Linked DNA regions of Homo sapiens: region 2 is linked to region 1. The links come from fine-mapping of genetic effects on gene expression. Tissue or cell type: fibroblasts. Region 1 holds a variant in brackets; the other region holds the start of a gene. All regions are shown on one strand. Distances are between the middles of the regions.

Evidence for each region. PIP is the estimated chance that this variant, and not a neighbour inherited with it, causes the effect.
Region 2: NRXN2 starts here. The variant in region 1 is fine-mapped to the expression of NRXN2 in fibroblasts (GTEx, PIP 0.99).

The regions. Positions count from the first base shown.
Region 1 is chr11:64,652,038-64,660,135 of GRCh38, reverse strand. It overlaps NRXN2 (neurexin 2), which reads left to right. Exons shown (of 23, transcript NM_015080.4): 12 at 6,414-6,440; 13 at 7,982-8,098. Among named protein-coding and RNA genes, the nearest start is that of NRXN2-AS1, 12 kb to the right of the region's middle. RefSeq lists enhancers at 1-647, 440-1,107, 2,458-2,957, 2,958-3,459, 4,950-5,109 and 2 more. The variant G/ACTTATTGTGAAATTCCCG (reference allele first, on the strand shown) is at 3,752.
Region 2 is chr11:64,718,555-64,726,652 of GRCh38, reverse strand. It overlaps NRXN2 (neurexin 2), which reads left to right and starts at 3,456. Exons shown (of 23, transcript NM_015080.4): 1 at 3,456-3,682. RefSeq lists enhancers at 518-1,356, 2,566-2,615 and silencers at 2,996-3,295, 3,282-3,576.

The DNA of each region.
Region 1 (8,098 bases):
TCCATGCTCGACGACACTGTGAGGGGCAAGACCCAGAGTATCTGGGGTATGCTAACTGTCCTCCCTGGTGACTCATGTGGATCTTGGTAGCATCTGTCCTGCACACACACAGATGACACAGCTCATTTTTGGTCAATGGCTCATCCACTTGCTCATTCATTGGTTCATTCATTTGAGAAGCACTTGCTGACGCCTAGTGGGTGCTAAGCCTGAGCTCAGTGTGGTGGCAGATACAGAGATGAGGAAGGCCTGGTCCATGCACGCAGCTGCCCCCCACTGCTCTGCTCAGTCTAAACAGCAGTCTGTGTGTTGGTGTGTGGAGGTGCATGTGTGTACACTGGACACACAGACGTGCCATCTTCCCGTTTCTAGTGCCATGAGCTTTCACATTTGAGCCTCATGGCTGTCCTGTGAAGACACTAGATCACCAAACAAGCATTACTGTCCCTGTTTTATAGATTATGAAATTCATGTATTGACTTGTTCAACATTACAAAACTAGTGAAGGCAGAGGGAGGAGCCAGGACTCAACCTGGGCCATTTGCCTTAAAATTCAGTGCTTTTCCCATTGCCTCGGACAGGGCTGCTGACCCTCCCCCTCAGGCCACTCATGCTGACTCATGTCTCCACCCATGCCCAGGGTTGAGAGCAGGCCTTGACTCCACTTCACCTGGTGGTCCCCGGGGTGTCCATGAGGGCCAGACCATGAGCCTGTTAGGTTCTTCTCACGGGCTTCAGCTCTCCTAGTCAGGGCAAAAAGAAAACAGCAGGTTCACTCATTCAGCTATTTATGGGACACCATATAAATGCTAGGTATGTTCAAGCCAGGGGCTACAGCAGTGAATAAGCAGTCCCCACCCCTTTGGAGCTTTCAGAGCAGGGGAACCCTGGGAATGAGAGGTCCTAAGCTGTTCAGGCTGAGGTCAAATCTGTCCATTTCAGACTGGCCTCTAGAAGCTTATAAAGGTGTAGCACCAGCCGTATAGGAAGCTTGCAGGTCATCAGGGTCACTTGTTGTATCCTGGACCTAGAGGGGAAGCAGGGCTCTTCTGAGCAGGTTAGAATCCTCGACTGGAGAGAATACAGAGCTTTGACCATTTTTTTTGTTTTTTGAGATGGAGTCTCGCTCTTTCACCCAGGTGGGAGTGCAGTGGCGTGATCTGGGCTCACTGCAACCTCTGCCTCCCGGGTTCATGTGATTCTCTGCCTCAGCCTCCCGAGTAGCTGGGATTACAGGCACCCGCCACCACGCCTGGCTAATTTTTGTATTTTTAGTAGAGATGGGGTTTCACCATCTTGGCCACGCTGGTCTTGATCTCCTGGCCTCGTGATCCACCCGCCTCGGCCTCCCAAAGTGCTGGGATTACAGGCATGAGCCACTGTGCCTGGCTGAACTTTGAACTTTTAAATACTCATCTGGAGTCTCATCCTAACATTGGTCTCCGGGGCATTTGTGGGACAGACTGTGGCCTTTGGGGAACCCATTGCCTTGTAAATGTATTTATACTATGTTCTTTCCTTTTCCCCTTTTGGCCACCTGGCCTTTGTATTCCTAGGACAAAGATTTGCTGAGAGAGGTGGGGACTGGAGGTGGGGAGATATGCAGGTGGCCAGGGCCTCAGAGTTGTTTGAAGGGTTCCCCTCAGCTCTGTTTCTAACCACGATCACAGCCTGTAGAGCGGGTGGTGTGCAGCAGCTCTGCAGGGGAAAGCAGGCTGGGAGACACTCTAGTCAATGCTCCACAAGTCTGCACAATGCTCCCTTGCATCCCTGAAACTGTCACAAGAGGATAGCCCCAGCCAAGGACCCCATAAGTGGCTCTGTACTTCCAAGTCTGCCCAGATTTGTGTATCCAGTGTGAGTTCCCCCCTACTTTGCCTGGGCATATGTGTGTTGTCTGCATCTAAACACATGTCTCTGTGCTTGCTGGGGACACAGCAGGAAAAATCTGGGGCCTTGGATCTGCAGGGAAGGCAGATGCATTTTGCTTATTTGGACTGTCCTAGGCCCCTGGGAAGAAGATTGTGTCTCTTAAGATTAGACAGGAAACAATGTCCTTGGTCAGGAAAACCTATCCTGTGGGCCCTTGGGACCCACCCTCTCCTCTCCATGGGCACACTTTTCTGTCTGTGCCACATAAGTGCTCAGAAGTCAGATAACAAGGTGGCCTCTTGGAAGACACATCATGTTAAGAATAGGCTTCCCAGACTGACAGATAACAGGACTCTCCTCCCACCCATTTCTTACTCCTGGCTGTGCCCCTGCCCCCATCTGTAGACATGTGTGTGCTGAGATGCCATCTCTAGCATGACTCCTGACAATCTGTGACCAAAGGCTTGGTGCAAATGCATCCGTCTACAGATTCCTCCTCTGTAGGCACTGTGGACACGCAGGTGGCCCCTACCCAGCCACCAAGCCTTGGGTTGGGATGGGAAGAGTTCTGGGCTCCGGGCCAGAAGACCTGGGGCCTAACTTTGGTATCTTTTACTGTTGGGTAAGTCATTTCCCATCTCTGAGTCTCTCTCTCTTTTTTTTAATCTTTAAAATGGAGATAAGAATCTTCACTCTGCCTACGTCTGTGGTGGTTTTGAGGCTCAGATGGAAGAATGGGAATGAAACCATTGAAACCATTGTGTAGATGCAAGACCCATAGTAGAGACCCACCCAGCCTTCTTGAAGGAAAACAAAACCATATTGGAATAGAGACTTGAGTTTGGAGCCAGGCCTGGGGGCCACTTCCACATAGCATGGACAGACTGGAGTTGTCCTCTACTAGGTGTGCCCATGGGGTCCCAGCTGTCAGTGCAGCTGATGGGAAAAGTGCAGTGTAAAGAATCTCTGAACCACAAGGCGTCACCTCCTTCAGCCTCCTGGCCCACGTGAATCACTTCAAGAGCCCCATTCCTGTCCCCCATTGCTTGCTCCCCAGGACTTGCAGGGCCTCACAGACCGGCAGCAACACCAAGGCCCCAGGCCTGGGCTGGACTCACTACTGGGGAAGAGAGAGAAGCCTGGTGAGGCTTGGTCTCTGGCCTCATGATCTTATCCTGTAGAGGGAAGCTATTGCTCCAGGAGGCAGCTCTGCAGCTCCACAGGCACTCAGTGGATTGAAACAGGCCCCAGGCTGGGCCTGAAGAGGGAGCGGAGGCTGCGGGTGACCACTAGGTGGGATCGCTTAGTGCTAGCCTCAAGAGATGGGATATTTGCTAGATAAGAGAGGGACAAAAAGGCACTGCTGCCTCTTTCCAGGCAGAGGATCCTAAGGAACTTATCGTGCCTCCTGCTGCAGCTTCCCAGCCCCCACTATGTTTGCAAACACTGAGCAAGTTCCTTGAGCTCTGCTGTCTGCAGCCCCTGAGTTGGGGAGTTGATCTCTGTCCCTAGAGGATGGTAGAGTCCCCTGGATTCTTTGCCCTATCCCAGCATGGCCTGGGCCCCTCCCTGGAGGGGAGGAGAGGACAGGCCAGGCTGGGCACTGTCCTCTACTAGGTGTGCCCCTGGGGTCCCAGCTGTCAGTGCAGCTGACCTGAAGGGTGTGGTGTAATTAAAGAATCTCTGAGCTGCAAGGGGGTTACCTCCTTCAGCATCCCTCCCCACCCCATGAATCACCCATACACTCCCTACCAGTGGGAGGCCTTCTACCTCCCACCTCCAAGATCCATTCTGATCATTGAGTGGTTCTTTCTTAGTGTCACCCTGCCCTTCTGAAATTCCCACTTATTGTGAAATTCCCACTTATTGTGAAATTCCC[G/ACTTATTGTGAAATTCCCG]TTAGTTCTGCCCCTTGGAATCAAACGGAGAAATCTAACTCCCGTTTGTGTTTTAAATCAGGCTAAATACACATTGTATCCCAAAGCCCTTTAATCCCTGGGGCCATGGGAGGGTACATTGCCTTTCCACCTGAGGCTGATCAGTAATTATCAGGGGGGCTGCTGGGAGCCAGCTCTGAAGGAGGGCTATGACAGAGTGCATGCTGCCACTCTGTGATGTCACTTCTGAGACAGATGCCTGGGAGCCTTGGGCCCACTGTCTCCAACCCACAGGGCCTGGGCGGGGAAGGAACCCAGGTGAGGCAGGGCTGGGAAGCCAGTGTTCTTTCCCCTGAGTTCCTTTCCATGCAGACTGCTTTGTCTTACCTCCCCAACACGTGTTCATACTACGACCCTGCTCTCTCTGTCCAGCCAGGGCCTTCGTGGGTCTGTGCCACGAAGACCACTCACTTCTGCCTATTCCCTGCACTTGAGGCACAGGTCACTAGTTAACAGGTTACTAGTTAGTGCCCCCTGAACTTTGGTGAATGTGTATGTTGAAGAGGCTGGGTTTCTCCTGCTCACTCTCAGTCTCTGGCTTTCTTCTGGATGGGGCTGGCTTCCCTCTGGGTGCCCATCTTCAAGTCGTTTGCTCTTGCAAACCCTACTGGAGCCTGTGTTTCTGAGGGTGGAGTCTCTGCAGGGGTGGGCCTGGAGCTGACACCTCTTCTCTGGACAGATGGACCCCCCATTCCTGGTGCTCCCTTGCTGGGGAAGGAGAAGAATCAAGCTCCTTCTTTGGGTCTTTTCCCCAGTAGGGGACCTGCTTGCCCATCCAGCCTCCCCTTTTTTCTTTTTTTGGACCCTTCATTGGTGAAGACTCTGCTGGCCCCGAGAGAGCCCCCGTGACCTGACTCCAGGGCCTGGCACCCTTCTACCCTCACCCTAACAGTCCTCCCCTTCCTCTTCTGTCCAGCCTCCCCTGTCCCCTCTGTGCAGCCGCTCCTTCCTCTGCTCCGTTTTCTTCCTCTTTTCTCTCTGCACTCTCTCTACCTCATTCCTCTCACTGAGACTTCTCACTTCCCTCTGTGTCTGCCTTTTGACCTTTTTCTGCTCCTCTGCTCCTCCCTTGGTGCCAGGCTGTGGCCCAGGGTCCTGGCTGCTCGCCTCCACTCTTCTGCTGCGGTTGACAACGCGTGTGGAGCTCAGCTGTACTGCCGAAGGGCCGTGGCCCTCAAAGCCACAGGGGCATCAGTTTACCTCCACTGCAGGAACCTTCAGGGGCCCAGGGGATGCAGCTGCCCACCCCCTTTGCTTCCTGGGCTGTGGGGTAGGCAGAGCCTATTTGGGGTGGAGCGACAGGAGGCCAGGGTATTGGGCCTGTCAATCGAGGGCCGGGAGACTGCCCCTCTCTGAAAGGCAAAGCCAACCCAGTGTCTACCTGCTGCCTACTTCCTGCTCAGGATCCTACTGTTATCCATTCCCTCAGCTCACATGGAGGGAAGCTGAGGCATGGAGAGAAGTGCTTTGCCCAGGGTCACACAGTGAGTTAGTGAGTGTTAGGGTGGAGATGAGGACCCAGCTCCCTTGCTTCCCAGTAAAGGATTTCTGCAGCTCCAGCCAGTCCCCTCCCTTGGGCTGCGTCAGGCTTGGCGTTTGATGGAGTGGTGCAGACATCCTAAAGGCCTTAAATCTGGACTTCATAGGACCCTGGTCCACTGTTCCCTCTGCAAGACCTGACTGGCTCCCACCTTTGGGTGGTGTGTCTAACCAGAGGGATGGCCAGAGGCTTCAGGGCCCTGGGCTGCTGGCTCTGTGTAGCCACACGGGGCCTTCCCAGTCCTGAAATCAGAGGATAGCAATGCCAGGACCGGACTGGGGCAGGGGCAGGAAACTTTGCTTATGGTGGCTGCTTGTCCCCAACTGCTTTGTGTTCTCAGAGAAATCATATTTTGGGGGCTGCACTGTCTCTATCTGTGAGGCCTTGGCTCCTCTGACTAGGAAAGCAGGTTAATACTAGGTCCTCTTCAGGGTGAAGGACTCCCATGATCTATCCCCAGTAGCAGCCTGGCATTTCCCAGGATTGGAAAGGGTGGAAGGAAGGTTCCTGTAGGGGTGGTACTAGCCACTGGGGCTTTGGGAGGTGTATGGCCTCGGGAAGGGGGCCCTGGGGCAGACCCCTCCATTTAGCTCAGAGCCCAGAGGGGAACAGGGAGTGACAAGTCACACCTGGGCTCTGAGGAGGGAGTCGTCCCAGAGCAGGGGATGCAGGGATTCTGGCTCTCCCCACCCATCTCCCTCCCAGAGACAGGGGAGATGTGGGGTTGGTCAAGCCCTCGGCCCCCATTGATCCCCTGTACGACTGGGATTCCCAAGGTGCCCGTCTCCCTCAGACACTAGAGGCCTGGTACCCTCTAAGAAGGGGGCCACAAGCCCTCTTCCCATCATCTGACTGCCCTGCCTTCCAGCTCTGGGGAGGGTTGGAGCCCTCTTGGGGGCAGGAGGGACAGGGGTCCAACTGAGGAAGGGAAGAGGGCACCTGGGCACGCGTGGTCCCCGGAAAGTGGCCCTGGGGGGAACCCCGCCCGCAGACACCCCTCCCTGTGAAGGATGTAAAAAAAAAAAAAACTTGTTTTACCTTTTTGTCTCCCCTTCCCCTCTGCCCGCCCCATGGCCCCCCCAGACTGCCTGCGCGTCGGCTGCGCACCCAGTAAGTGGCTTCCCTCTTCTTCTGCAGAGACCCAAGGGGACTGGGATGCTGGACGCTGGGATTTAGGGAGGGAGGCTGGGAGGAAGAGAAGCCGTGATTGCTGGCTCGAATGGGGGTTGGGCCTTGAGTGTGGGGAGGGGTGCAGGCAGGAGGGTGAGGTTGGGTGGTTGTGGAAGGCAGGAGGGACCAAATGAAGCAGAGCCAAGGAGAGCTGGGGGAGGGCCTGCAGTCAGGATGTTCACTGGGTCTAGGAAGGGAGAGACAAGGACACCCTTTACCCAAGTCAGCAGGAGGGTGGGGAGGAGGTAGAAATCAAGGGCTGGGGCAGAGTCTTGGGTAGCACCTGTGGTCCTATGGACTGGCAGGGAGGAGCCTGAGAGGGGCTGGAATACGCTGCTGCATCTCCAGAATTGGCCACAAGGGGGAAGGCGAGGGATGCAGGAAAGAGGATGAGGGTGGGAAGGGAGCCCTCTTCAGCTCCTGTGTTAGCTGGGGTGAGTTTCTGCCAAATGGGGGCTCCTTCTATGGTGACAGTGAGGGCTCTCAGCAGGGGTGAGATGGAGAGTGAGCAGGTGGACATCTCCAGACATCCCAGTGCGCCTGGGCTCAATGCTGTGTCTCAGGGTGTTTCTGCATGGTGTGGCTTGGGGTCACATGGGGGAGCACATGCACGTGGTAGGCCCAGGCAGAGAGACTGTGTGTGCTGGGCGCCCTGCTCTTCATGTGTGTGTGGCATGCTGTGTGCGTGCTGGAGCCCTCGGGGTGGGGGGGCAGGGATGACCAGAGAGTGCTGCAAAGTCCAGCAGCATTTGAAAGATAAGTATGTTTTGTTTTAGACTCTGGAAGCTGATAATCCTGGTCTTGAGTAAATGGCCATAGTTCCTAAGAAACAGAACCTTCCCCTCTCTGGCCATCCTGCATATTTATGGGCAGTACGTGTGGTGGCGTGACTTGGTGTGTGACGTTAACCAGGCATGTGTATGTAGAAAGGTCCCATCGGGTCCCATTGTAGATGGAGGAGCTGGTGTCTGTGTAACAGAGGCCGAAGCTGTGGGCTCGCATTTACATTTGGGTACTGTGTGAAGTTTTGAAAGTTTTAGGTCTGTGTTTACACCCTGGGAATATAGCTTCTGGCCACACTCACTGAAGGCCCTTAGGAATCTGGGGGAAGAGTATGTTGGTCATAGGTGTGGGTGTCTGTGTGCAGGGCCTCAGGGTACAACTCCAGAGGCACCATTCACTTAATATTCTATGTGCATGGCACCTCCTAAAGTCACACAAAGGGCAGTCCTGAGAGTGGATGTATGACTGGGGTATAAAAGCTCTGCGTGTGCATGGACTCCAGGTGTGATGGGAGGCTATAAGTGTGTGTACTTGTATTCATGGGTGTGTTGCGTGGCCAAATATGAGCCACTGGTCATGTATGTGTTCATGTGTGGCATGTGCGGGGATGGGGAGGCTGTCTGTGTATCCAAGGTGATATAGGAAGTCACCTATGAGCATGTATAGGTGCCCTCCTCATTCCCCCCTTGGTGCCGCAGGTAAAGGCCCCGAAACGCTGTTTGCGGGGCACAAGCTCAATGACAATGAGTGGCACACGGTGAGGGTGGTCCGGCGTGGCAAGAGCCTGCAGCTGTCTGTGGACAACGTGACTGTGG
Region 2 (8,098 bases), 67 kb before region 1:
CAGTCATGCATACCCAAAGCCTTCAGCCCATGGCCGAAATTCCCTTGCTGGACAGGGGGCCTTTCAGCCCCTGCTTGGACGCTTCCAGTAACAGGGCCCTCACTGCAGGAATCGTGGGAGGGAGAGGGGCAGCACAGAGTTGCTGGCTGTCGGGGAAGGGAGGGAGGGCCCTGGGCAGTCCGAGGGCCCTGCTGGGCTTGTGCCTCAGGGTGGGGGCTGCACTCCTCCGCCTTGCAGCCTCCTGGCCTGGTGCTGCTGCCAGCCGGAAGGACAGTGACTTCCAGAGGAAATGCATATTGATCCTGCTTTCAGCCTCCGGTGGTGGCTTCTCCCAACCCAGCTCTTCCCTCCTGAGCCTGCAGCACGGAGGTTTTGGGGGTCACTGCTACCTAAAGAAGGCTAAGGCCACTTCTGAGGCTGGTCTGGGAGTTTACTAAAGGTTCTGAAGCTGGGCCGGGCTGCCCCTGGGATCAGGAGACTCCAGACAGCAGTCCTGACAATGGGAACTACCTCCTCAGTCCCCCAAACTGGGAGGTGTCCCACAGCAGCTGTAGGATTGTCCTAGGGGTGGAGACCTGAGCACCTTCCACTCCAAAGCACAGTATCTGTGGGCCTGGCAGTGGCCTCAGTTCCCCCATGAGTGCCCCGGTCCCCCACCCCAGGGTTTCCCCACATCACATCCATCCCTGCTTTGAGACCCCACTCCCCCTGGCCTGTTCTTTATTTTGGGTCACTCCCTTCTCTTTCCTGGTCATATCTCTCCTGCAGGCCTACCCTGTGTTGGGCCCCCCAGCCCTGTCTCTGCATCGGGTGCCCCCCTGCCCCTCCTTCTGTCCTCAGCCCCCTCCGCCCTTCCCCCTCTTGAGGCTGTAATATCCGTTTCACGATTTGGGGGCTGAGTTGCTATAACAACAGACGGCGATTGTGTTGTGAAGAGCAGCTCGCTCCTGTGCCGCCTGCCTCCTGTGCTGCCTCCATCCCTGCAGCCCAGTCGGTTCCTCTTGGCTCCTCTCGTCACTACCCTCCAGTTCCAGTCTGGCCTCTTCCTGGTGTGTGTGTGTGTGTGTGTGTGTGTGTGTGTGTGTGTGTGTATGCATGCATGCATATGTGTGTCCAGGTCTGCCTGCCCGGGATGTGACAAGTAGCGGTCTTCATGGTTGCATGTGTCTGAATTTGGTGTCTGAGCTTCACATTGTATGCGCCTGTGTGCATGTGTGTGCATGGACATGCATGCTGTATCTGCTGTGTTTCCCCTCCCCCATGTGTCCCCACTGGCCTTTGCACATGGGAGAAGGGCATGTGCTCAGCATATCACTCAACTGTCCACATTGGGTGGGTACCTGTGTGTGGTGTGTGTGTGTGTGGGGTGTGTCTTGAAGTGGCAGGTCCCAAATGCTTAGGCAATCTGAACCTTGGACCTTGCAGAGAGGAGAGATGTCCCTGTAGGTGGGAGGGACAGGGAGATGCAGCAGCTGCCCGGTGACCTTTTCTGCCCTTGATGGGCAAAGCTGGGGGTAGGGAAAGGAGACAAGTGCTCATACTTACCTCCCTCCCTGCCCAGGCTCCTCTGTAAGGGTCTGAGTCTGTCTCTGTGAGCCATTGCATCTGTCTGTCTATGCCCTGATGCCTGGATGGACAAGGGGTGTGTGTGTGTGTGTGTGTGTGTGTGAGTGTGAGGAGGCTGCAGGAAGAGGAACAGTGGGGGATGGGCAGGAAAGTGGGCTGTGGGGTCAGGGAGGCGATTTCGCATTCATAGGCCCTGACGCAGCAGTTCCATTCTCTGGCTCCTTCATTGGCTTTGGTGGGGATGCCCTGGGGGTCTCTCCAAGGTCAGAGTGGGCCCTAAGTCTGGGACCTGGCTTAGGGATCACCCTTCTCGACTCCTAGGAAAAACTCCTTGCAGCCTGGGTCCCCCTCTTACCCCTTCACAGGCTGGGGAAGGAGTTTCCCACCCGGGGGGTTGGTGTCCGCATTAAGCCACTCAGTAATTGACCACTCTCTTTGAAGTGCCTGGGCAGGGGTCCAGGATGACTGTGGGCAGGTCCCCTGGGTGCAGCTGTTCTGGGCATGCATTAATTGCCTGGTGTAGGTACCTGTGTGCACAAGTGTGTGTGTTCTTGGGCAGTATATGCTTCCTGTGGGTGTGTTACCATGGTGGGGCATTTCTGCAGGTGTTCTTATGTGTCTCTGGGAATGCCCAGTGTTCACAGATATGTGTGCATGGCTGTGAGTGCCCCAATGTCCATGCATTGGTGGTTGAATGTAAGTGTTCTTGCATGTTGCCTCTGGCTAAGGAAGTGCCAACTACCACCAGCTGTGCAGATCACAGACCCTGCAACAGAAACCAGGGTCCTGGAGTGAGCTGGCAGAATGGTCTGGCACACATACACACACACACTCTGTCTCTCACTGTCTCATTCAGCAGCCCAGTGACCAACCTCGGGGTATACACACTAAGTGCCAGTGTGTGTACACTTTTATTGGCGGAGTGAGTGAAGGGTGTCCCCCAGTCCCCCACACTCATACACATGCACAGTGATGCATGTACCCTTACAGGAGAGACCTGCGCCCCCCAGCACCACTCTAACTGAAACTCATGGATGGGAGGAGGAGAACAGAGAAGGGGGCTGCTGCCAGGTGCCCTCAGTCACCAGGCATGTGCAGGCGCAACCCTGCCCCCACACCTACTCGTACCTCGGTCCAGGGTTCCAGGCAGAACTGAGAGTTTGGCCTCAAACTCTGGGATTCCCATGAGGCAGGACTGGGAAACCCCCAAGTTCCTAGGTCTACCCCGCCCCCATCTCTGCCTTTCCTTCCCCCACCGCCTCCGTCTTTATCCCAGCAAAGCCCCTTCCTCTTCAGTTCTGGGGGCTCCAAGCCAGGGGCCCTCCGGACGGTGGGAGGTGGGGGCCAGGCTACCGACTGGAAAAAGCCCCCAGCAGCCATGGACCCACCGAGTCCCCCTTCTCTAGGCTCCTCGAAGCCCGGGCCCGCCCCTGGGGGTAGCCAGCAGAGGGCGCTGCGGCCCAGGCCCCGCATCAGCCCTGCTCTCGCGGCGTCCCAAGTCGGGGTCCACAGCCTCTCCTTCGGCTTGTCCCAGCCCCGCGCTGCGCGAAGACCTGCTGGCCGTGGGGGGAGGGTGCGGGACCCAAGGCCCCGAACTAAGGGGCGAGGGGCGAGGGGCGAGAGTGCTTGGGTTCCCGGAAAAGACACTGAGGCCGGGTTTGGGGCCCGCCTGGTTGGGGGCCCGGGCGCCCGAGAACCTCGAGAGGCTGGGAGGAGCGCGGGTGCTGGGGCCGGGACGCCTGGGTCCCGCGCGAGGGAGGGAGTGGGCCTGTGGAGCCGCTGGACTGGCGGCTTCTGAGCCCTTGCATTGGCTGCGCTGCTCGCCCGTCAGCGCAGCGTGGTCCAATGCGCGCGTCTCGGGGGCGGGCACTGGTGCTGATGCTGCCGTCAGTCGGTGTTGCAGGGATGCGGCGGCGGGAGCAGCCGCCCTGACTCGCGGAGCATCCTCCTCGGAGAGGCACCGCGGCGGGGCGGGCGGGCGGGCGGGGACGCGGCGGGGAGGGAGAGAGGCGCGAGGCGGCAGACACCGCTAGCCCTGGCTCTGCCACCCGTCGGAGACGGGGCGGCCCTGTAGCTCTGCTACCCACCCTCCAGCTTCTGGCGCCCCGAGAACCAGGTAAAATGGGGGGGGGGGGGCGCTGCGGCGGAGACGGGCGGGGGGCGGGAGCCGATCGGGGGAGGGGAGCGGATCGGAGGGGGCGAGGGAGGCAGGACGGATGAATTGGGGGGCGGGGGCGCCGCGCTGAGAGGGCTGGCCCGGTGACAGCGAGGAGGCAAAGCCGCTGGGGGCTTGGGGGTCGGAGGCTCCTGTGGAAGGGGCACTGGCCCTGAGAGCTGAGGAGAATGGGGAGGGGTGGGAGGAAGGGTCTTTGGGGGAAGGGATGGAGAGAGGAGGGGCATCCAGAGGACTTAGAGGGGGTTCTTAAAGGGGGGTCCCCAGTCTGTGCTAGCCCCAGAGGCTTGAAGCAGCGCCGGGCCAGAGGAGCTGTTGTGTTCTGGAGGGTCTAACCAGCGAGAAACTGGGCTTCGTGGGAGGAGAGGAGAGGGGGCTGGAGAAGAGAGAGAAGTGGAGAGGGAAGGAAAGGGGCCAGGCCAAGGGCTTCGTCCTGAGGGGACCCACTGAGGACCAGGCTTTCCTGGGGGATGGGAGCCAAGGGGAGAAGAGGTTATTGGGAGAGAGCAGAGGGGAATGTGCCAAGGTGCTCCAGGCAGAGATGGGTCTGTGCTGGTGGAGAGCTGGGAAAGATGGGGTCTGAGGGAGAGGAGCGGAAGCTTGCGGGGGAAGGCTGGGGGTGATGAGACAGGGAGACTGGGAAATCAGTAGGAGGGGGCTTTGCTGGGGTGGGAATGCGCTGGGGGCGGTGACAGGGTTCTGGTCAGAGAGTGCTGCAGGGGGAGAGGAAGCTGCAGGGCCCTTGGCTTGCTCCCCCACCCCTAAAGAGGAAGGGACCATTTCTCATGTCCCAGCCTCCTCCCCCAGCTGAAGCAGCAATCTTCCCTGGGGTCTTTGGGTTGGGGTATGAGCCCTTGAACCCTTGATGGGCTTTTGGGGCACAATTGGCTTTGGGGTGCTGTTGTCTCCTTTACTCTCACCCCCCTCCTGAATCTTGGGAGAGGGCATTCGATGCCTCATTGAGCTAGCAAGGGCTGGGAGGGGCTTTTTCTTGGTGTCTGGAGGTGAAGGAGGAGGCTGTCCACCTGGAATAATGAAATAGATTTTTAGGGGGTGGGTCTTGGGTCCCCAGTCCCTTGGCTGCCCTGGGGGCTTCCAGATAGCCCTGTTTTTTCATGTGTTGGCGGGTGGGCGTCTCTCCTCTTCCATTCATTCTTATCCTTCCCTGTTGTCTACCTTCCCAGTGTCTGGGTGTTCCTTTTGGAGGAGGGTGGACATTAGGGTCTTACTTTCTCTGTCTTCTGCCAGAGAAGGAGAAAGAAAGAAGGGAGAGGGAAGGAGAAGGGGAGGGAGGTCTGCAGTCTGCTAACTGTGAGGCCTTCTGTTTTGTGGGTGCTTCAGCCCCTCAGTCCCTACCTCCTCTTGCTTCCAGGGATGGCTCTAGGGATGCTGGCATCTGAGGTGTGGCTGGATCTTTTGGGAGACAGGGGAGAAGGGTCTGGCTGGGGGCTCTTCATTCATGCTAGAGGAAGTGTTCTCAGACCCATCCTATCCTCAGATCCACAGGGGTGGGCGGGATGGACCAACCAGCCACGGCTGCCGGGCAGTTCTTTCCAGCCCAGGCCTGGGCTGAATCCATATGACATTGGAGTTCTGAGAGGAGGGGCTGGGTGCGCGAGTGGCTGGTGGGGACCCCTCTTTCCTTCCAGGCTCAGTCACTACCCAGGTCCAGCTGCTCCCTCCCGCTTACCCTTGCCAGTGACACAGACACTCTGACAATGATACACGCGCTCGGTGGCACCCACCCAGACACACACCTACACAGGCACACACACCTGCGTACACAATACACCTCCTGGCAGCATACAGCCCACACTCCCCACCCAGAGAGGCTGCCACCTCATGCCTGCCTCCTTGAGACCTCCCCCAGGTGCCTTGCTGCCATGTACACAACACACACACGGCCACTACGTGCCCCCAGAGCCCCCAGCGCAGCACTGCCAGCCCTCACCCTTGGATGCACACAGCCCCCATCCAACCACTCACCTCCCCAGGCTCACAGCCATCGCAGGCACACCTGTGCTTCTTCCTCATACACCTTCAGTCCTTGCAACACACCCTCTCCTTCCAGACACCCCATCCCTCCCAGGTCTACACAGCATGTGGGCACACCCTCCCAGACACACCAGTCCCTGCCCCCCAGCAAGCTCATCCTGAAGTACCATGTGCATGTCTGTCTGGGTGCTGAACACCTTGCCCCAGGCCTTTGTGTGTGTGCACGTGTGTGTGCACACCAGCACATGTTTGCTAACACACTTAATGCTGTGGCTCACCCCCTAAACCTCTCTTCTACTTTCTCTCTCTCTCACTCACTTATCTTTGTACCTTCGGCGCAGGGCCTCCTACCCCTCCTGGCCACAACCACGACCCTTCCCAGTGGAGTCCAGCCCCCACCTACACCTGGTTTCCCTGGGAGCCTTCCCATTTCTAAGTGGCCCCACCCCCCGCATTAATCCTCAGGCACAAGGGCCCCTACACCTGCCTGTGCACTGGAGACACTGTCCTTTCATTCGCAGCTCCCAAGCCCAGCCCCCACGGGGATGCCCCGATTGTGTGTCCTCACACGCCACCCACCTTGCTGCTCCATCTGTTGGTGCAGCTCCCTCGCCCCTGCCCCTTCCACACTGATGGGCCTGTGGGCTCTCGGAGACTCATTCAACAAATAGTCTGGTGCACACTTTCAAGGATGTGTGTGGCACCTTGTTATTTACGAAGCTGCTTCCCCACTGCCACCACCACTGTTTGGCATGGTGGGGTGAGGGTGAAGGTGGGACTCCGCTGTGCTCCTCAGTGAGCCTCAGTTTCCTCACGTGTGAAATGGGATCCTCATCCCTACCTAGTGGGATGTTATGAGGACTCACTGAGAGGACAATGATGGCAATGATAGTAGTAACAAGCATGTTTATTGTGTACCTACTGTGTGCCTGGCCTTGTGCGAAGCACTCTGTAAACCTTACTTTGAGGTATTTGTAAGACACATAGAAGGTCCCCGTAAATGGTAGCTATTTTTATTGTCATTATCATAACCTTCCCTGCACGCACACACACGCGCACACACCTGTCATAGATACCTTTAGGAACATTCCCAGGCACCTCATGCTTACTCACAAGGCCGCCCCTGGAAGCCATCTGTCCCCCTCTGCATCACTGGGGTGCACCCGCCCAGGCTGCTGTGCCCCAGCTGTGCACAGCATAGGTAAGCTTGGTGCTCATCCCTCCCACCACCTACCTCCATGCTCCCATGCACCTGTCCTCCGGCCCCCACTCCACCAAGTCATTCCATTGCACCTCTGTCCCCAGCCCACCCGCTTCCCCAGCTCCATGAGGCGGCAGCAGCCTCATCCTGTGCACCCCGAGCTACCAGCTCCTGGGCCCAGCCCGCTCCATGCTTCTCTCCATGACACAGAGAGCTGCTTGGCGACCTGCAGACATGGCCGCTCATGCCCAGCCCACCCTGGCATGGGACTCCGACTTATCTTTAGACCTGTTTGTTCCTTCTACTGCCCTCTGAGTCAGGACAATTGACCAGCAGAGTTGAGGAGGACACGAGGGATAGGGATTAGACAGAACCAAATCTGAATCCCAGCTCTGCCATTTATGATTTGTGGGACCTTGGGTGGGTCCCTTCTCCCCTTTGAGTATCTATTTCCTCATCTGTAAAAGGGGCAGTGATAATACTTGTCTTGCTTACTTTTCTCACCAAGCCCTGGTGAGGATCAGAGGAAACACTAGGCACTCGGTACTGCAAACTGTAAAAGGCCGAGATGAGAAGTTTTAAAAAAATCATTAATACGACACACTTTTTTTTCACACGTTAGTCTATGCCAGGCAGTGTACTAGGAGCTTTATGTATGTTAATTCTAATTTTGACAACACTATTATTATCTCTATTTTATACATAAAGAAAGTGAAGCACAGAGAGGCTGAGTAACTTACCAAAGGTCACACAGCTGGATAGGGGTAGAGCTGGCATTTGAACCCAGGCTTCAGAGCCAGTGCCTCTAACCACTGTGCTGTCTTGTTTTTGCTGCTGCTGAGGTTGTGGCTGGGTGTGGAAAGGCATGGGGTCTTCCCTTTTTTCTGCCAGATCATCACGGCTGGAAGGAAGGGGGAGGTAGGAACTGTTCACCGTCTGCCAATCTTGCCTGGAATTTCACGGGGGAAAGGGGACCCTCCAAAAAACATTCTGCACCTGAAAAGGACCTCAGGGGTCAAGCAGTCTGCTGTCCTCTTCCATATGATTCAAGAGCCTCCCCCACACCGAGCCTCTCTGAGCAGCAGTCATCCGGTCTCACCTCGAACACCCCCACAGACGGGGAACTCACCACCCCCCGAGGCAGCCTACTCCACTGTTGGATG